Regions from separate parts of the Homo sapiens genome. Here all the other regions are reported to be linked to region 3. Evidence: microRNA targets listed by miRTarBase, many of them from high-throughput screens and not tested one by one. Region 3 holds a microRNA gene; each other region holds the end of a gene's coding sequence. Distances are from middle to middle.

What was found. Region 3 holds the annotated microRNA hsa-miR-646 (AAGCAGCUGCCUCUGAGGC, at 1,515-1,533, shown strand). A microRNA usually pairs through its seed, bases 2 to 8, with sites in the 3' UTR of a target mRNA and lowers its output. Matches are read on the target gene's strand: a 7mer-m8 pairs with bases 2 to 8, a 7mer-A1 pairs with bases 2 to 7 and ends in A, and an 8mer does both.
Region 1: the mRNA of ZNF367 is a reported target of hsa-miR-646. Seed matches in the 3' UTR shown: 7mer-A1 at 677-683.
Region 2: the mRNA of CDC42SE2 is a reported target of hsa-miR-646. Seed matches in the 3' UTR shown: 7mer-A1 at 2,311-2,317.
Region 4: miRTarBase lists VOPP1 as a target of hsa-miR-646. Seed matches in the 3' UTR shown: 7mer-A1 at 581-587.
Region 5: the mRNA of SNRPB2 is a reported target of hsa-miR-646. Seed matches in the 3' UTR shown: 7mer-A1 at 777-783.

Annotation. Positions count from the first base shown.
Region 1 is chr9:96,384,663-96,388,814 of GRCh38, reverse strand. ZNF367 (zinc finger protein 367) reads left to right here. Exons shown (of 5, transcript NM_153695.4): 5 at 356-2,874. The coding sequence ends at 578. Among named protein-coding and RNA genes, the nearest start is that of SLC35D2-HSD17B3, 3.0 kb to the right of the region's middle. RefSeq lists an enhancer at 1-152.
Region 2 is chr5:131,390,588-131,394,739 of GRCh38, reverse strand. It overlaps CDC42SE2 (CDC42 small effector 2), which reads right to left. Exons shown (of 5, transcript NM_001375635.1): 5 at 68-3,747. The coding sequence ends at 3,649. It overlaps LOC105379173 (a long non-coding RNA gene), which reads left to right. Exons shown (of 3, transcript XR_007058929.1): 3 at 1-100. Among named protein-coding and RNA genes, the nearest start is that of CDC42SE2, 130 kb to the right of the region's middle.
Region 3 is chr20:60,307,020-60,311,171 of GRCh38, forward strand. MIR646 (microRNA 646) reads left to right here and starts at 1,455; the gene lies at 1,455-1,548. The region is part of intron 3 of MIR646HG (MIR646 host gene); the gene reads left to right.
Region 4 is chr7:55,469,342-55,473,341 of GRCh38, reverse strand. It overlaps VOPP1 (VOPP1 WW domain binding protein), which reads left to right. Exons shown (of 5, transcript NM_030796.5): 5 at 297-2,729. The coding sequence ends at 487. Among named protein-coding and RNA genes, the nearest start is that of VOPP1, 100 kb to the left of the region's middle. RefSeq lists an enhancer at 1-369.
Region 5 is chr20:16,740,743-16,744,891 of GRCh38, forward strand. It overlaps SNRPB2 (small nuclear ribonucleoprotein polypeptide B2), which reads left to right. Exons shown (of 7, transcript NM_003092.5): 7 at 104-1,822. The coding sequence ends at 263. Among named protein-coding and RNA genes, the nearest start is that of OTOR, 5.5 kb to the right of the region's middle.

The DNA.
Region 1 (4,152 bases), not on the chromosome of region 3:
GATAGGATAAATAAGTTTCTAAAGACTGTTTTTTCTACTATTTCTGTATTTTACTCAAGTCCATTTCACACAGGCTCTTTAAGGCGGTGATAGTTTAATGGCAAAAACGTGATTTGAGAGTGAGTAGAAGATCTAGAACTGCCAGGTTTATTGTGGAAACCTGAGCACGTCTCTTAACCTCGTTGAACTTCAGTTTCTTTCCTCTATAAATAGGAAATTTATGTTAAATCACTTTATAACTTTATAAACTGAACCACATAAAAGTAATATTGTGGTATGGAACTTTTTAAAAGAAAAGTAAACATTTGGAAATTTCATGTCTGCCATGTAACTAATGTTGCTGCATTTCACATAGGTATTGGGAAATGAGAGAGCAGCGCACCCCCACTTTGAAAGGCAAGCTGGTTCAGAAGGCTGATCAGGAGCAGCAGGACCCTCTGGAATACCTTCAGTCTGATGAAGAGGACGACGAGAAGAGAGGGGCCCAGCGCCGGCTGCAGGAGCAGCGGGAGCGCCTGCATGGAGCCCTCGCGCTCATAGAGCTTGCCAACCTGACTGGGGCGCCACTCCGACAGTAGCTTGGACACTGACTCTTCCACTGTACAAAAGTACTGCCCAGCATACTTAAAAAGTAGATCCTTGGGCATAAGCTAAGCACCTTATTTGCTTATCATAGGCTGCTATTCTGTAGAAATTTATGAAGAATGTTATTGCCCCAGAATATGGGGTGAGAGAGAACTGCACTTTTTTAATATGGAAATGAATTCATCGTAAAGTTTAAAATATTTTGTAAATATGGACTGCACAGTACAGGGTAGAAAACTACATATTGTGGGAAGCTAGATTTTGCAAGTTTAATGCATTCATTGGAAGCAGTTCTCACAGGAAGCACTTTCTGAATAAGACACTTGTTTGAAAAACAGAATGGTACAAATAGCCAAAGAAGATTAAAACAGATTATTTATAAGATCATTTTTAACAATATATATTAGTATGTTTAACAATACTGTAAACACTGAAGCAAGCAAGAAAGTATAAAATATGTAAGATAGATAATTTTAATTGCAAAATACTGTGCCCACTAAGGCTAGAGAAATGGGAGGCTATTTTGGAAGATGTTCTAAGTAATGGACTTAGAAGAAAATAGATATTTGAGGCTCTTGGTAAGATGCACAATAGTTCAGAATTTTTGAAATTGGAGCAAAATCAGTCTTATTCTATCTGGGGCTTTACAACTCAGTATAATGTTTAAGTTTGAAAAGCACTTGTCATCCCTAGCATGTTAACTTGGGAACTTTTGCACATTTCATATTTCTCATTTGCTGAAATTGAGTGATTAATCTTGCAAAGTCTAGGTAACATAGTAATTGGTAATTTTAAAAATACATATTAAGGGCCCTGTAATGAGATTTGGCACTTGGATTTTTACTAAAGGGACACCTGCAGGGTTGTTTTGTAGTGAAATGTTTTAGATCTTTTGTTAGCAAACACTACATTTTAATTGTACTGCTTGTTTAGAATTATTAGCAAATGGAAGCCTCCATATTTATATTTTCAGTGCATAAAGCCACCTTCTTGCTTTACTTCAGAGTAACATGCCAAGCTATTTTGTGTTCACTAAATTTAGCTATCAGTTAAACACTGCAGAAAATATTAGCTACTCAAATAAGTAGGCTTCTGAAATAGTTTTAACTGCAAGTGTGTTAACTTGTGTGGTGGTTTGAAGCCATTTTTCCAAATAAAGTTATTAAACACCACTTTATGTACTGAAGCATGAACAGAAAAATCAAGAGCTGAGCAGACCACCTCCTTTATGTAGGCAAAACTTCCATCATTTTGGCTTTTGTTCTAAACAGAACTAAATGACATGCATAGCATGGTAACTTACAGATCGCTTAATTGGAGTAAAACTCAGAGTAATAGAGGGAAATATGGGCTCTTCAGTGCCTTTTTAGCTTTTTTGAGTTGAAGACGTTCCTACAGATGTAGTTTAAACATTACAAAGTAGGCTTCTTTATCCAAAAATCCCAATGTGTCATAGTACACAGATAGTTTAAAATATGTAGCCACGGGGAAGGGGAGGCATGTAAATGTCTTGAAGAGGAGAAAAAGTATGAAAGAAGATACGATAGTTACGAATAATGTGTATGATGAGGACATACTTTAAAAATGTAATTCCTCTGTACAGTAAATTACAAATCTTTAGGGATTTTTTTGTAATAAGAGAATTTATATTTGTAATGGTCTAAGAATTTTTTTGTAATGTGGTATATAGAATTTTAATTTGGAGCACTTATAAGCTGGTAAGAGAGACTATAGCATCTGAATTATCTTGGTTTATGTTTCAGCATTTCCTCTAGAATTTTTGCTCTCAAATATGTGATTTAATGAACTAAAAACAACACTCATCAGTCTTGGGAAATTTGAACTTTGATCAACTTAACTAAAGAAGGAAGGGTAGTAAGAATTTTTCAAATACAAATATTTGCCAATTCACAGATGATAACATTTAAGGCCTTCAAAAGTAAGGGTTTTTCCTTGTTTCTCCAGTCAGCTTTTGTCAACTCTAATAGTTTTTTCATAAACATTTTTTATTTGTATAATTGCAACAGTTTAAGAAATTATCACAACTATTTAGAAACATTTAAAATGTTCTTTTTGATATAAGCTATATACTTGGAAAAATACATTGGTATCTAAAATTTGAGGTGTGTTAAGACTGCTTTTTGTTTTAAAAAATGGTTTACATTCAAATTTTTGAAGTGTTTTATGCTTCATATGGCTAAGTTGTAGTTTGGCAGAGTTAACAGCATAAGAATAAACATGCTGTAATTTTAAAAGATGCTTTGAATAAAAATTTATTTTAATTTAAAATTTAAAGTACACGGTCATTCTTAAAGCCTTTATCATTTGTTTTCCTATCGAAAATATAATAACCATGATATAAAAAAATTTAAAAGATAGAAACATCACCTACAGCCTTATGTTCAGCCATCAGTATTATTTCAGTACATGTTTGCGTAGTTGTAAGTACAGTGTGGATTGCTTTTTCTTACTTTAATTATGGCTTTTAAGGTTATAGATATTTAACTTCCTCATCGGGTTCATTACTACAGTGTTAAAAATATACTGCTGTGGATAAGTATTGAACTATTGCCACCCCATTTCCAGGCCTTAAATTAGGGTAATAAGGAAAAGGGATTTCATTTCACTTACATTTAGGATGGGTTGTCTCTGGGGTCAGCTCCTCAAGAATCCATTTAAAGCCTGTGTACTTTTCTAAGAGTCTAGCAAATTGGTTTTCTTTTTTCATCAGTTATTTTTGGTAGATCTTTAGTTGTGTATTTGCAGTGGCAAGGGTCAGCCTGTCCTACCCTTGTGCAGAAGAATATCACAAGCAACTCCTTAGTGTGAGTTGCTGTTTAAACAGGGTAAGGATGGGATTTTGACAGCGAGGTAAGGTCCTGGAAGTATGTGTATACAATCAAACTAAATGCAATTATGATGAAGGTCATCATTAAAAATAACTTTAAAATATTCTTTTTGCAGTCAAAACATTTGGAGACTCACAAGAAAATTGAATGTTCTGAGGAAATTAACCAAAATGACCGATTTCCTGTTTAACTTGAATATGGATTCATTTTCTCTTTTAAAACGGACTTAACATGTCTTTTCTTTCTTGTTTTGGGTAACTTGGGCACTTCTGGTCTTTTTAATGCTAGCTAATTTTCACGAGTTCTGCTTTAGTTCTTATCAGGGCTGAAAATGTTTCCCAGTTTTCATTCTCCTGGTTGTTTAGTGCCTAAGGGTAGAAAAACAATTCTCTGGGCATCTATATAGTTAGGCCCCAACTTTTATTTAACTTGAAATCTTAAGCTTTTCTAAGAAGCTAAAAGTTCATATATATATATATATATAATATACATTATATATTAAATATATAATATATATATTTTTGAGACGGAGGCTTGCTCTGTCGCCCAGGCTGGAGTGCAGTGGCGCGATCTCGCCTCACTGCAAGCTCTGCCTCCCGGGTTCACGCCATTCTCCTGCCTCAGCCTCCTGAGTAGCTGGGACTACAGGCGCCCGCCACCACGCCCGGCTAATTTTTTTTGTATCTTTAGTAGAGACGGGGTTTCACCGTGTTAGCCA
Region 2 (4,152 bases), not on the chromosome of region 3:
ATTCTGGTAAATAATTCCTTCCTTGAAAGAAAAGAAAAACTAAACAAAATTTAAAGGAAAGGCCAACCAGGATTGAAAGAAAACATTTATTGAATCAAAATCAATACTTTCTTTTTAGTATCTACAAGCCAACACAGAACTCATTTTATTCAAGAATGAACACAATGTACAAAAAAAGTATGCTTATATTATAAAAATATGTCAATTTTATCTTCTGGGTGCTTAGCAGAAGTCATTTTAAACAAAATCAAGGCAAACTTGTTCTCTATAATGAGTCTGCTATAATTTAACAACAAAGTGAAAGCTAATGTACTTACGAAGTATTTTTAAAGGCCCACTGATAATGCTGCACTGGAAATGCTAAACCCAATGTTAACTAAAGTCAACATTTCCGCTCTACGCTTACTGGCACCACTTCATGCCTACATCATGGGAAAGTACCTCTTTTACAGAATGCAGATCACTGCTAACAATCCACATGACTAAGTCTTCAGTTTCCCTTGCTTAACATTTGTTAGCATATATTTCAGCAAAGATTAACAGTATAATGAATGTTGAGTAGTAAAATCCTATTTAATTCGCTTCAATTTAAAAATGAGATATGCTGCTATGGGGAACAAATGACCTCTTGAGATTTACAACCCCCTTTATAAAAGTGGGAAAGCTGCCTCCCTAAAAAAAATTATGTCCAAGGTTAATACCGTATCTTTTTTTGTAGTTTTCTTATTTCTTGATTTTATTGGCACCTCCCAGGCACTTTGGCATGTGCTCCTGTATAAAGTGTAGTTACTGTGCCTGTAGAGTTAGTGGCAGCTGCAGAGTAGTTATAGGCTGACAAGTCCACTTTTGGCTTACCATGGAGATCTGCTCCAACACATGCTGGTCGTTGGAGCAGCAAAAAAAAAAAAAAAAAAAAAAAAAACAGCGATTTGGAAAAAGACTAAAATCATGAGTCAGGGAAAAGGATCACGGCTTCCCGTACTATTGTTCCAGGAGTTATATGACAAGTAGAAAAATTGTACTAATTTAAAGAGTCAGTCAAAATAGAAGTAGACTAAATAGCATGAGTGCTGATAATGCCAAGAAAATCCAATCTCTCTTCTAAAGAGCTTGCACACAGCACATAGCAATGTCCCTGGCCAAGAAACTGACCGTGCCTGGCTGAGCAGAATGACAACAGTACTCAGGCAAATTCCACAATGCAACATCCACTTGGTGAATCAGTGACAATGGATGAATTCAACTTACTTTAGAAGTTGTTATTAAACAAACTGCAAAATGTCTACTCCGAAGATGCAAATGTTTTTCCTTGGCAGATCCTCTCTGTGCTTGGGATTGACACAAAGGCTCAAAACTGCAAAATACAAAGATCAAGTAATCTGGTGCCCCGCTGTACTGGGTAAATTAAATTTTAAAAAGTGGAGGAGAAATGCTTTCACATTTTACCTACATAAACCTAATGTTTGTTCAGTTGCCTGTTTTGCAAGAATCTTGGACTAAGGTAAATGAAGGCAGAAGATAAAGTGATCCCTGTTCCTTTATTCCAAGTTAAAGTTTTTAATTAAGCCCCATTTGTTATATGAAATGTTAATCCTACCAAATGTAGTTAGATAGGCTTGAATTGGACATAGGATTTAAACAAACATTTTAATGAGAACACAAACCACTGACTCTGGCTTAACACCACACTCTAACAGAAAAGAAGAAACCTTTACAGAAATATTTGAAATATACAAAATTCGTGCAAGGACAAACATATTTTAGAACCTGAGCAAAGGCTTCGTACAGGTTGTTTTCACTGGCAATAATTCAGCCAGGTCGGTATGTATGTTGCTCTTGGCAACTGATGTGGCCCCTAAAATAATATGTAGAGCACAGAAAGGCCAGTGACTCTGGAGGTCTGCAGTTAGTAGTACAGGCCAGAAGTTCAAGAAACTGCTACTGGAAACAACTGGATACCATAACATTAAAAAGAAGTAAAAATAAAAGAATGAGTGCACAAAGAAACGAACAGCTAATTAATAAGATGAAGATGCTCAGGATTGGACTGGAGGAGAGTATGACCGCAACACTCAGATACATAACCACACCTGTAACCACACCTGTTTACAACCACAGGTCCTTGCTCTCAAAATAAATATATTGAACATTTACAACAGAATGAATGCCTTATGAATGCAAGCTTTTCTTTTATTGCAATTCTAATCAATCAATCAAACAGACCAAAAGGTCATACTTCTAAAATAAGCTACAAGTAATCTTTTTCTATGAAAATGATGTGACTTGGTGCCACAGCTAAACTTTATCTAATAGCAGCATCATCAGCCCATGGCAGCAAAGAAATGTTAATTTCTGGCATCCCATGGGCTCTTACCGAAGCAACAACTTCATAAAGCATGCAGATATCTATTCTGCTGAAGTTTCAAACAAACAAACAAATAAAAATGATCATTGTGCTTGTGGGTCTCATACCTTCCAAAATATACATAAATGATGGCAAATTAACAAATAATAGCAGGTCCTTGCTTTCCAATAAAATCGTAAGGCAGGGGGTCGGCAGTGAAAAGAAAAATGTTTAAAATAGAAAAAAAAAACTGCAAAATGGTGTTAGCATTCACAAAAAAGATCATGCGAAGATCAGATCCATACTGATTAAACATTGAAAATTCAGTGACAATCCAAAGAACTCTGTCCATGAGTCCAAAGGCATGCATGCCAGCTGAAGGAAATGCAGGATTCGTCTGACAGTATCTTCTTCAGAGCAGAACAGTAACATCTCACTGGAATAATCACGACAGGGTGGACAAGGTGCCATCACACTTCTTTTTTGTAATTCAAAATAAAAGCAATCACAGGACAAAAAAAAATTACAGAATAGTGGACAGAGAAAATATAGAAATTCACAATAACCCTATAAAACAAAAAAAAACTTGAAATTATTTCTACATTTTCAGGGTTTATCCTTTTTCAAAGTAGTCTTTTTAATTAATTTGAAAAGTTTATAAACAATGAAGTCTTAACTGTAAAATTACTACCCAAGAGATTATCTTTAGTATCAGTACTTTTTTGAGACAGGGTCTTGCTCTGTCACCCAGGCTGGAGCGCAGTGGCGCATTCTCAGCTGACTGCAACCCCTGCCTCCCAGGTTCAAGCAATTCTCGTGCCTCAGCCTCCTGAGTAGCTGCGATTACAGGCATGCGCCACCATGCCCAGCTAATTTTTGTATTTTTAGTAGAGATGGGGTTTCACCATGTTGGCCAGGCTAGTCTCCAATTCCTGGCCTCAGGTGATCAGCCCACCTAGGCCTCCCAAAGTGCTGGGATTACAGGTGTGAGCCACCATGCTCGGCCTCAATACTCAAAATAATGATTTCACTCTTGTTTAAAGGACACATAAGAAGCATCTTGTCATCAGAATCCTCCCCAACCAGATGTTTTAAAGTATTTAAAGTTCTTAATAAGGAAAAGAACCTAAAACTTACATTCCAAGTGCAGAAACTACACTTAGCTGAGTAATTTTGCCTTTCCCAATAAGTTCACCATTAAAAAATTATATATATATACATATATTTACTATTATTGGCCTGGCCATGTCTGGCCGTCAGGTCCAGACCCCAGCTCTGAGTACTCACTGGAGAAAGGACCAGGGCTATCCCGCCTTCGTATCCACGAGCTGCATCTGGACATTGGCAGGCATTCCACCTCCATAACCTCCCTTGGACTGCATTTGGTTCTGAATGGAGCTAACCTAAAACAAGACAAAAATACAACAAAACAAAATGGAAGTCAGGAAGTAGGTCCGGTGCAACTAAGTAATTCTTTTCCCAGAATTTTATTTGGGCTGCTTTTTTCAGAAGGGTACTTTTATAGACAAAAATTTTTTTATAGACAAACAATTTTCTAGTTATAAGGACAAACAGGGAGGCTAGCAACTGAAACATTTTTTGCAAAAACCCCTATTTTCTCTATTTCCAAATTACAAAAGTCAGTTTTGTAATTCACAAGGCACTTGGTAACATTTGAAAAATGGTCAAAAATATATAGATCAACTCCACTTTCTTTTTTTTTAAGACAGTCTCGCTCTGTTGCCCAGGCTGGAGTGCACTGGCGTCATCTCAGCTCACTGCAACCTCCACCTCCCAGGTTCAAATGA
Region 3 (4,152 bases):
ACAGAAAATAAATAGGCTAAGCAGGGCCTGGGGTTGGTTATTTCCATAGACTTGTCCTGGAAATGTTAATCAAAGCAAACCAGAGGGAGCAGGGAGCCAGGGTTATTCTGATAGTGCTAAAAAAATTAAGTTCCCGGCCGAGCGTGGTGGCTCACACCTGTAATCCCAGCACTTTGGGAGGCCGAGGTGGGCAGATCACGAGGTCAAGAGATTGAGACCATCTTGGCCAACATGGTGAAACCCCGTCTCTACTAAAAATACAAAGACTAGCTGGCATGGTGGTGAGCGCCTGTAGTCCCAGCTACTTGAGAGGCTGAGGCAGGAGAATTGCTTGAACCCAGAAAGCTGAGGTTGCAGTGAACAGAGACTGCACCACTGCACTCCAGCCTGGCGACACAGTGAGACTCCGTCTCAAAAATCAAGTTTCTGTTAGCCCTTTGCAATCTGGTCATAGTTCTTTCTCTCTTCCTCCCTCACTCTTTCTTTATGGAAACTATGCCTACCTGTGTATTTTCTTTGTGAAATATGATTTCACACTTTAGCTTATAAAAGAGGTTTTGCCAGGTGTGATCGCTCACGCCTGTAATTCCAGCACTTTGGGAGGCTGAGGAGGGTAGATAACTTGAGGCCAGGAGTTGGAGATCAGCCTGGGCAGCATGGCAAAACCCTGTCTTTACTAAAAATACAAAAATTAGCCGGGCATGGTGGCGGGCACCTGTAGTCCCAGATACTCAGGAGGCTAAAGCAGGAGAATCACATGAACCTGCGAGGCGGAGGTTGCAGTGAGCTGAGATCACACCATTGCACTCCAGCCTGGGCGACAGAGTGAGACTCTCTTCTCAAAATAAATAAAAGGGGTTTTAAAATTTGTTGTGGGGGGCGGGGAGGATTGGTAAAGGCTAGGAAATTCATTTAAAAAGAAGACCCAATGTTTGTCATGGCATCTTCAACTTCCACCCTCAGGGATGGAGGGAGATGTGCACTTGGCCTTTTCTAGTTGGACAGGTGTGCAGGTGAGGGCAGGACTCCTGGGGGCTTTAATCGGCCAGGGTTTGCCTGGTGCACACTGCCAAGAAGGTGAAAAGACGCAGGATAGGGATCTCCTATAGGCGGTAAAGGGATGGGTCAGGTGTAAGTCATCACACGCTCCTAAGCCCTGAGCAAATCACCCAGGATCCGGTGGAGATGACATTGTCATGACAATTCTGTCCTTCCTTCTGCCTTCCACGCACCAGGTAGAGGGGTAGGGCGACTGTCAGAGTTCACTCATGACACAGAGCCCCTCTGCTGGGTCAAGCAGGAAGGGATTCAGGACCGGGAAACAGATGCTTACAGGTCATTGTTGAAAGTGCTGAGGAGGGGCTCTGGCTGGCTCCGGGTTTTCTCGAGCACTGTGTAGCAAACCTGCCAGGACAGCACTGACTACCACAGCCAGGACAGTTCAGAAGCCTGGAGATCAGGAGTCTGCCAGTGGAGTCAGCACACCTGCTTTTCACCTGTGATCCCAGGAGAGGAAGCAGCTGCCTCTGAGGCCTCAGGCTCAGTGGCCTATCTTTACCCCAATGCATGCAGGTCAGAATGTAGCTGAACAGCAGCCCAGGGTCCTGCCCTGCTGCCAGCGGGAAGAAGAAAACAGCCAAAGCAGGAGGTGATCTTACCTACCCCTCCACCTCCACCTCGGGCCCAATTTGCATCCTGAGTCCCTGCACGGGGGCCTGCCAGGGGGACTTCACATGCTCAGCTGATGCAGGTGGAGGGGAAGGGAGAAGGCTGCCTGGATGCGGGGCCTGTCCACCCCTTCCACCCCATACAGCATCTGGTTCTGGTGTGGGTCCTCTCCTCCTCTTTCTCTACACACACACACACACACACGAGAAACACGCAGTCTCACACGTCTGATGCTGCCCCACACGTGTCGCCAACATCAGCCTTTGTCCAGCCTCAGCCTCTTTCCTCTCTGAGGGTTTGGCCACATCCACTGGCACTGCATTTCTTCCCTGCAATTTTGCTACGTCTAAGTATTGTCTCTATTATGATCTAGTTTTTGTCACCTTAGTTGACTTGTTAAGCTGAAATAGTTATTTCAAAAGGAACCAGTTACACAGATGGAAAGCCAGTGTCATTTGTATTAATAGGAGATAAAGGAATAATTAATACAATAAAAAGGGAATGCATCTTTATGAAATATTAATTATCAAAGGATCTGAGTCCAAGGACTGTGCTCTTTACTGAAAAGATAAATGAGTAAAGTGAGGTGTCAAAGATACATTATTCTGAAACTGAGCCTTTTTCATCAGATGGATCAAAAAGCAATTACAGTTGAGCCTTGAACAACAGGGGGCTTGATCTGCATGGGTCCCCCTACATGCTGGTGGTCTTCTACCTCCGCCACCCCAGAGACAGCAAGACCACCTCCACTTCCTCCTCAGTCTACTCAATGCAAAGACCATGAGGATGAAGACCCTATGACAGTCCACTTCCACTTAATGAATAGTGGAATATGAACAGAGAAAATCTATATGAATAGAGAAAATCTATATGAATAGAGAAAATGAATAGAGAATATGAATTGAGAAAATCCATTTTCTCTTATTTTCTTAACATTTTCTCTTTTCTAGCTTTATTGCAAGAACACAGGATACATATAACATACAAAATGTTTTAATCAACTGTTGGTTATTAGTATGACTTCCAGCCAAGAGTAGGCTATTAGTAGTTAAACTTTTGGGGAGTCAACAGTTACTTGTGGATTTTCACTTGTGCAGGGGGCGGTGGAGCAGTTGGTCCCCTAATCCCCCACGGTGTTCAAGAGTCAAATGTGTGAAAGGGTAATACACATTGCTGTGCCTGCCAGCTGAGACGATACAGGACAACAGTGGTCATCAGCTTATACTTTTTCATTTCTCATTTAATTTTTCAAACTATCCTGGAATACGTATTATTCCCAGTTTAAGATGGGGAAGTTGAGATGCAAGAAGAAATTGGACACGGTTCCAGATTGAGGAAGTGGGGGTGCTGGACCTGTACCCAGCTTCTTGACCTGAGTCCTGGGGGCTCCATATGAATCAGAAGGGGGCAACCGTGTGTCAAAGCCCTCAGCTCCCAGCATTAGACTCATGCTTACGACATGCAGCTTTCACCCCTCTTTGATCAAGAGAGGGTTTCTTCTGTAATGTTTCCCCCATTCTGAGATCTCAAGGCAGTTTACCTCAAGGGACATGGTGATGGCTCTTTTCAATCTCTGGGTTGGTTCTCTAACATGAAAGACCACATGGCCGGGTGCAGTGGCTCACGCCTGTAATCCCAGCACTTTGGGAGGCCGAGGTGGGCAGATCACCTGAGGTCAGGAGTTTGAGACCAGCCTGACCAACATGGAGAAGCCCGTCTCTACTAAAAATACAAAATTAGCCAGGTGTGGTGGTGCATGCCTGTAATTCCAGCTACTTGGGAGGCTGAGGCGGGAGAATTTCTTCAACCCGGGAGTCAGAGGTTGCAGTGAGCCGAGATGGCGCCATTGCACTCCACCCTGGGCAGCAACAGTGAAATTCCATCTTAAAAAAAAAAAAAAAAAAAAAAAAGAGAACACGGAGAGCATGAATAAGTGGAGCCTACACTGCAGAGATCTGTTGGATTTTTCTGGGAATGGCTTTGCCTTCATAAACATTTTCCTTTCTCAAGTGTCAGGGACAGGGAATCAAAGCGGCACATGCTGACCTTTCTCCACAAAACGGAACCTCCCGGCCCCGGGGCCATCTGTCTCCATTGATGCACGGCAGCTAGAAAGATGAGGACTCAGACCTGGGAAGTCTCTCAGAGCAGCTCTCTGGCAGGCCTGTGGCTCATTTTTAATTGCTCAGCAGTGAAAATTATAGAGGAGAATAGAATGTCTGCCCTGGCAGTTGGACGATTTTCTTACCAGTAACCTGAGGATGTGACCTGGTGGGCTCTGCAGAAAGAGAGGAGAGTTGTAAGTCTGTCACCTGTGAACATCTGGCAGAGGTTATTATGCATGCAAATTTTATGCATGAAATTCAAAGATGGAGGCCGACACCCCCTCCCCCCGCAAGTTTTATGACCTGTGGATAAGTTATGCGTGAGTTATGCATCTGACTAACGTAGGGGCAGACCCGGGAGCGTCTGTCTGGGTATTTC
Region 4 (4,000 bases), not on the chromosome of region 3:
GATAGTTCACCGCAGACAGCCTCACCTTACTGTGGCCCAGTTTCCTCCACCCTAATGTGTGAACTGGTAACGTGGAATGTAGTCCAGTAGAATCAAAGCCCCGAGAGGGCAGGGACCTGCCTATTGTGTTGCTTGTCACCACAGCCCAGGTGCCCCCTCACCGGGCATGTTGGGTCCTTCATACACTGTCGCTGAGTGAATGACGGGGCGTGGTCTGCTGGCCCTGCAGCCTGCACATACTTGCGGTGTGATGGGGCTTTCCCTTCTGTGCTCACCTATGTTTGTCTGTCTTTCAGGAGCCCAGCAGCCGGGGCCGCCCTATTACACCGACCCAGGAGGACCGGGGATGAACCCTGTCGGGAATTCCATGGCAATGGCTTTCCAGGTCCCACCCAACTCACCCCAGGGGAGTGTGGCCTGCCCGCCCCCTCCAGCCTACTGCAACACGCCTCCGCCCCCGTACGAACAGGTAGTGAAGGCCAAGTAGTGGGGTGCCCACGTGCAAGAGGAGAGACAGGAGAGGGCCTTTCCCTGGCCTTTCTGTCTTCGTTGATGTTCACTTCCAGGAACGGTCTCGTGGGCTGCTAAGGGCAGTTCCTCTGATATCCTCACAGCAAGCACAGCTCTCTTTCAGGCTTTCCATGGAGTACAATATATGAACTCACACTTTGTCTCCTCTGTTGCTTCTGTTTCTGACGCAGTCTGTGCTCTCACATGGTAGTGTGGTGACAGTCCCCGAGGGCTGACGTCCTTACGGTGGCGTGACCAGATCTACAGGAGAGAGACTGAGAGGAAGAAGGCAGTGCTGGAGGTGCAGGTGGCATGTAGAGGGGCCAGGCCGAGCATCCCAGGCAAGCATCCTTCTGCCCGGGTATTAATAGGAAGCCCCATGCCGGGCGGCTCAGCCGATGAAGCAGCAGCCGACTGAGCTGAGCCCAGCAGGTCATCTGCTCCAGCCTGTCCTCTCGTCAGCCTTCCTCTTCCAGAAGCTGTTGGAGAGACATTCAGGAGAGAGCAAGCCCCTTGTCATGTTTCTGTCTCTGTTCATATCCTAAAGATAGACTTCTCCTGCACCGCCAGGGAAGGGTAGCACGTGCAGCTCTCACCGCAGGATGGGGCCTAGAATCAGGCTTGCCTTGGAGGCCTGACAGTGATCTGACATCCACTAAGCAAATTTATTTAAATTCATGGGAAATCACTTCCTGCCCCAAACTGAGACATTGCATTTTGTGAGCTCTTGGTCTGATTTGGAGAAAGGACTGTTACCCATTTTTTTGGTGTGTTTATGGAAGTGCATGTAGAGCGTCCTGCCCTTTGAAATCAGACTGGGTGTGTGTCTTCCCTGGACATCACTGCCTCTCCAGGGCATTCTCAGGCCCGGGGGTCTCCTTCCCTCAGGCAGCTCCAGTGGTGGGTTCTGAAGGGTGCTTTCAAAACGGGGCACATCTGGCTGGGAAGTCACATGGACTCTTCCAGGGAGAGAGACCAGCTGAGGCGTCTCTCTCTGAGGTTGTGTTGGGTCTAAGCGGGTGTGTGCTGGGCTCCAAGGAGGAGGAGCTTGCTGGGAAAAGACAGGAGAAGTACTGACTCAACTGCACTGACCATGTTGTCATAATTAGAATAAAGAAGAAGTGGTCGGAAATGCACATTCCTGGATAGGAATCACAGCTCACCCCAGGATCTCACAGGTAGTCTCCTGAGTAGTTGACGGCTAGCGGGGAGCTAGTTCCGCCGCATAGTTATAGTGTTGATGTGTGAACGCTGACCTGTCCTGTGTGCTAAGAGCTATGCAGCTTAGCTGAGGCGCCTAGATTACTAGATGTGCTGTATCACGGGGAATGAGGTGGGGGTGCTTATTTTTTAATGAACTAATCAGAGCCTCTTGAGAAATTGTTACTCATTGAACTGGAGCATCAAGACATCTCATGGAAGTGGATACGGAGTGATTTGGTGTCCATGCTTTTCACTCTGAGGACATTTAATCGGAGAACCTCCTGGGGAATTTTGTGGGAGACACTTGGGAACAAAACAGACACCCTGGGAATGCAGTTGCAAGCACAGATGCTGCCACCAGTGTCTCTGACCACCCTGGTGTGACTGCTGACTGCCAGCGTGGTACCTCCCATGCTGCAGGCCTCCATCTAAATGAGACAACAAAGCACAATGTTCACTGTTTACAACCAAGACAACTGCGTGGGTCCAAACACTCCTCTTCCTCCAGGTCATTTGTTTTGCATTTTTAATGTCTTTATTTTTTGTAATGAAAAAGCACACTAAGCTGCCCCTGGAATCGGGTGCAGCTGAATAGGCACCCAAAAGTCCGTGACTAAATTTCGTTTGTCTTTTTGATAGCAAATTATGTTAAGAGACAGTGATGGCTAGGGCTCAACAATTTTGTATTCCCATGTTTGTGTGAGACAGAGTTTGTTTTCCCTTGAACTTGGTTAGAATTGTGCTACTGTGAACGCTGATCCTGCATATGGAAGTCCCACTTCGGTGACATTTCCTGGCCATTCTTGTTTCCATTGTGTGGATGGTGGGTTGTGCCCACTTCCTGGAGTGAGACAGCTCCTGGTGTGTAGAATTCCCGGAGCGTCCGTGGTTCAGAGTAAACTTGAAGCAGATCTGTGCATGCTTTTCCTCTGCAACAATTGGCTCGTTTCTCTTTTTTGTTCTCTTTTGATAGGATCCTGTTTCCTATGTGTGCAAAATAAAAATAAATTTGGGCATGTGCTTTGATTGTTTTGTTGGGGGAGTGGGAAAGAGGGTGGAGATGAAGTTTCTAATGAGGAAGGGTGTACAGCAGATCCTTGGTTCAGTGGGGTGAGGTGGGTGGAGGATGCACCTGGTCTCAGGGGAACCAGAAACTAGATGTTATTTGAGAATGTAAGATACAAGCTATGGAGACAATTGTCCCCAGTGGGTAGGAAGACAGAAGCATCGCTGAAGTAATGTACTGTTGATACTGTAAGTTAACCTTGAGCTAGGGCTGTTTTTCACAGGTCGGGGAGCCTTCATCTTAAAACACAGCTCTGCTTGGTCAGAAATAACACTTCTCTCACAGATGCTGCTGAAGGGTGTAGCTGCTACAGTTAAACTGCATTTTAATTATTTATTTTTTATTTTATTTTGTGTTTTAGAGATGGGGTCTCACTGCGTTTCCCAGGCTGGTCTCAAACCATTGGCCTCAAGCAATTCTCCTACCCCAGCCTCTCAAGATGTATTTTAGATGTATCACTAATTGACATAATGTTTGCAAAGAAGCATTTTCTATTTTGCTTCCTTTTTGTTTTTTTAGAGACAGGGTCTTGTTCTGTCACCCAGCCTGGCATGCAGTGGTTCAATCATAGCTCACTGCAGCCTCAAACCTCTAGGCTCAAGCGATCCTCCCACTTCCCAAAGCCGTGGGATTACAGGCATGAGCCACAGTGCTTGGTTTATTTTTGCCTTCTTAAAGCATGGGTCCTAGAGCATGGTCCCTCCCCTAAAAGTCTGTAGAGCATTTGGGGATCACAACTGTGTCCATCCCTGGGAGACGGGCAGTGCACACAAGTATATTGAACAGTCTGAGAAGCATCTTAATGCTGTTTAATCCAGCACTCCCCCAAATTAGTAGGCCATACAGTTCTTTTCCTTGTAGCAGGCAGTGCTGGCAGTAAGCACACCACTTCTGCCCACCCCATATTTGAGGACAGCTGCCCTGAAAGGCAGAACAAAGAAAGGGCAGCAGTGCTCCCAACTCTGTTATTCTGCACCCTTGCAGCTGGGCCTTTTATCAAAGTGCTGTTCTCAGGCAGGGCGCCGACAAATCCACTGACTACTTGGCACTGTGTGTGGTTTTTGAAAGTCTGTTTGATTTTTTTAATATATTTTGCATCTGTTTTCACCTTTAAAAGGCAGCTGCAAATGACCCATTTTTGTGATAAAACTAACTCAGAGTACAGGTGCAACCCCACTGATGTAAACAGCTTTTGAGGCTTTGAGGTTTTAGATGACAGTC
Region 5 (4,149 bases), 44 Mb from region 3:
TTATTTTTCTTGGACTAGTATTAGGAAGTTGCTTAACAAATTTTAACACAAAGCAAACATTTATGTACTTGCTGTATACATGAATTGTTTTTCTTCTTTATAGGTTCCCTGGCTTCAAGGAAGTACGTCTGGTACCAGGGAGGCATGACATTGCTTTTGTTGAATTTGAAAATGATGGGCAGGCTGGAGCTGCCAGGGATGCTTTACAGGGATTTAAGATCACACCGTCCCATGCTATGAAGATCACCTATGCCAAGAAATAACATTTGGGATAGTCGTCTTTAAAAGACTTGGTGTTATTTACAGTGTTTGTTTTGATAACATTTGGCTGGGTCATTTTAATAGTTAGAGATGAGGAGGAGTAAAAGTGAAATTTTTGTGAAGGACTTAAATTATCCAGTGTTTCTTTAGCCTTGGTGAACTATGAAATACGAAGGCCTTAATTTTGTACAATAAACTTTTATTTGTATTCTGTGTATATAATGCTTTCTTGATTGACCCATCTCCCTATCATCAAATGACTTCTAGTCTAGAACACACTTAAGGTTTATAAACTTGTGTAATAGGATGCTTTTCTAGTGTTACTTTGGAGGAGCTAATTATACAACATCATTGAACCATTCAATAAAAGTTAAGTAAAATTAGATCACAGAAGCTAGTAGATGACTGTTGTATTAATGGTAACAATGATTGTTCTGGGTATTAGAAGAAAATGAGACCCAGGCAGGATCTAAATTTGATCTTTGTATCCTTTTAAGAAATGAATATATTATTTTGCTGCTAGTAGGGATTCCACAAGTTTTCTTCATTCAGTATTAAATAAAGGCTGTTCTTACTGTTTACTGAGAAAACAGAAAGGGAATGCTATCTTCACACTTTGCATTTAATGCTGTTTCCTTCATGAGGCAGGACTGTTCTAAGGTTAATATGCAATCTCTTTATTGAAAGACCTCCAGGGTAAAAATTTTTTGATCTATAGTCTCTTTTCCCCCTTAAGACAAATAGACTGATTAATAAAGAGTTGCCAGTGCTAAGCTTGCTACTTCTTTGTAATTCTTAAACACCAATGTTCAAATATTTCCAAAGCCCATTTTCTTTAGCTTTTGATTTATGTTTAAGGCTATTGATTCAGTCCTCTGCTGAGTAAACCATGGGTATCTCCAGAAGTGGACAATTTGTTTTTACAAGTATGGTACATATTAATAGTAACAACAACAAAAAAGAAAACAGTACTTATTTTTCTGGTGTTCCTGTTTTAGTATTCCTTGAACAAAACCTTTATCACTTGGAATTTTTATTGTCTACTTATGGAAAGACTTTTAGACTTACGTAGACAGTATCACATCACTCTTATGCATACATAAAGAGGAAAAAAATGTTTCCTATAACTTTGTCACAGTTAGTCTGACTCTTCTGAATAACTTTTTTAATCCCAGTAGTCAAGCTCCTGTACTTTTGTAAAATATATTAACAGTGAATTACTAGAAAATGGGCCATGTTCTTGTATATTACAGTGATGTCAATTGCTGATAAATTTTCTAACTGCTTACTCTCGGATACCGTACTTGTCTAAGAACTGAAAATAATTCACAGACTGATCCCATGCCCAGTCCTGGCCATGCTTTGAGTGGCTGTATTGGAGCAGAAAAGCCAGGGTGGCTCACCTGGGGTGAGAATGAGGGGGGTGAATAGTAAGAGGGGTCGTGTAGGTCTTCTTCAGGATTTGCTTATACTCTGAGTGAAATGGGGGACTATTTTAGAGAATTTTTTTAAAGTGGGTTAGAATTTACGTACAATAAAGTTCACCCATGTTAGTGTTCCATTTGATGAGTTTGGGCAATTGTATATAGTCATGTAATAATCAGTACAGAGCATTCCATCACCCCCAAAATTTCCCTTGTACGCCTTTGCAGTCAATCTATTCCCCTCTACCCTTGGCCGTAGTCAACTACTGATCTGCTTTCTGTCCCAACAGTTTCGCCCTGTCTGGAATGCTTTGGAAATGTATCTGCTGTTGCCTATATCAGCAGTTCCACCAATGAATGGGCATTTGCGTTCTCCAATTTGAGGCTATTAAGAAAGTGGCTATGAAAATTTACATACAAGTCTGGGCATATGTTCTATTAGATTTCAAGCAGAAGAGTGATAGTTTGATACAATTTCTAATTTACATAAAAGTTGCAGAAATGGTACACAGAACTTTCATAACACTTCAAATTAATCATTAATGTTTCTAGGCTTCTGGGCTATTTGAGGTTGTGATTACATTGACCTGATACCCCATTATTCCATGATACTTCAATGTGTGTTCTTAAGTACAAGACCACCCTCCCACATAACCACAATAATGACCATCAAAACCAGGGAATGTGGCTGGGTGCGACGGCTCATGCCTGTAATCCCAGTGGTTTGGGAGGCTGAGGTGGGAGGGTCATGTAAGACCAACTGGGGCAACAGTGAGACCTTGTGTCTACAAAAAGAAAAAAAATAAGCTGGATGTGGTGGTGTGTGCCTGAAGTCCCAACTACTGGGGAGGCTGAGGCAGGAGGATTGCTTGAGCCCAGGAGGTTGAGGTTACAATTATGTGTGATCATGCCACTATGCTGCAGTCCGGGCAACAGAGTGAGACCCTGTCTCAAACAAAACAGGAAATAATCCCATATTATCATCCAATCCAAGTTTTGTTTATATTCCAATAATGGCTCAAGAATCCAATCCAGGATTGTGTTGCATGTAGTTGTCATGTTTCTTTAGCCTCCTGTTGATTCCTCAGCTTCTCCTTGTCTTTCATGATGTGAATTTTATATAGAGATAGTCTGTCTACCTCTGGATATATCTACACAGTTATGTTAAAAACTATGAATGTCTAAGAATGTCTCTGCAGTCTTAACAGCACTGAGTTCATCCTGGCTCTCCCCCTTCCCCTGTGTATAAATCACTTCTCCACCAGTCCCATTAACTTCAATATATTATATTTGCTAATTTTCCCAAATCTTTCCTGTGCAATCAAACTCTATAAGGCTTCAATAGGGAGCAGGGGAAAGGAAAAAGGAGACAGCAATGCTTTAAAGAAGATTTGGTCAAACCAAGATCTTTTGACCTTCCCTATCTCATCCATCTTTTGGGAGTGTGAGTTTTGAGGAATGATTGAAGGGAGTAGATGTTATTTAATATAGTGGTTCTTAACTTTGGCTGCATATTAGAATCATCTGGGAGCCATTTTCAAATACCCATGCTCAATCTACACCCCAGATCAATTAGTCTCCAGGGATGAAACGTAGTCATCAATATTTTTATAAACCCCCCTCCCCCCCCAGGGTGATTCCCTTGTCACCCAAGATTAAGAACTAACAAAGCAGGTTTCTACTTTCATGAAGTAGGGCATCATAGATCATTGACTCAAATGGTGTTTTTCAAAAGTAGTATATTGATAAATAGAGGATAATGTTAATTCTGGAAATGGTTGTGATGCAGGGCAGGCAAGCCTCAAACTTGGGGCTTAGCCCAGGAGGATTCTTGGCTTCATCCAGGAAAGAATTCAAGGGTGAGCTCATGGTGGTAAACAGCAGTCTTTTGGTAAATAGTGTTGCCCCTTGCAGAGCAGGGCTAATTCATACACGGTGTGCCCAGAGTTGGCAAAGTATTGGCTCTTGGCAACTGCATTTATACCCAGTTAAACTCACTTTCGGTCACATGCAAATTAAGGGGAGGCTCAATACAAATTGAGGGGCAGATTATTTAGAACTTTCTAGGAAAGGAGTGGTAACTTCTGGGTCATTGCCATGGAAAGGGGTGGTAATTTCCAGGTTGTTGCCATGGCATTTGTAACTGTCATGGCACTATGGGAGTGGCTTATGCTAATAAACAATGAAGACAGCTGAGGATCGCTTTTCTTGACATCTCCTTGTCCCTGCTGGTTTCTTCACTTTTTACTGCCTGGACCAGATCCTGTTCTGGTCAGCAGGGTGGTGACCAGAAAACAAGTTCTTCTGGTCTCCTACCTCAGTTGCAAGAAACTCAAAACTCCATTTTAAACTTTAAGCCTTATAGTATCTTCTGTTTGAGTATTTAACAAGCATTTGTTTTTCCTTGAAAATATATCCAGCCAAGACCTTATGAAGAATGTGAGCTAAAATTACGGTATTTTAC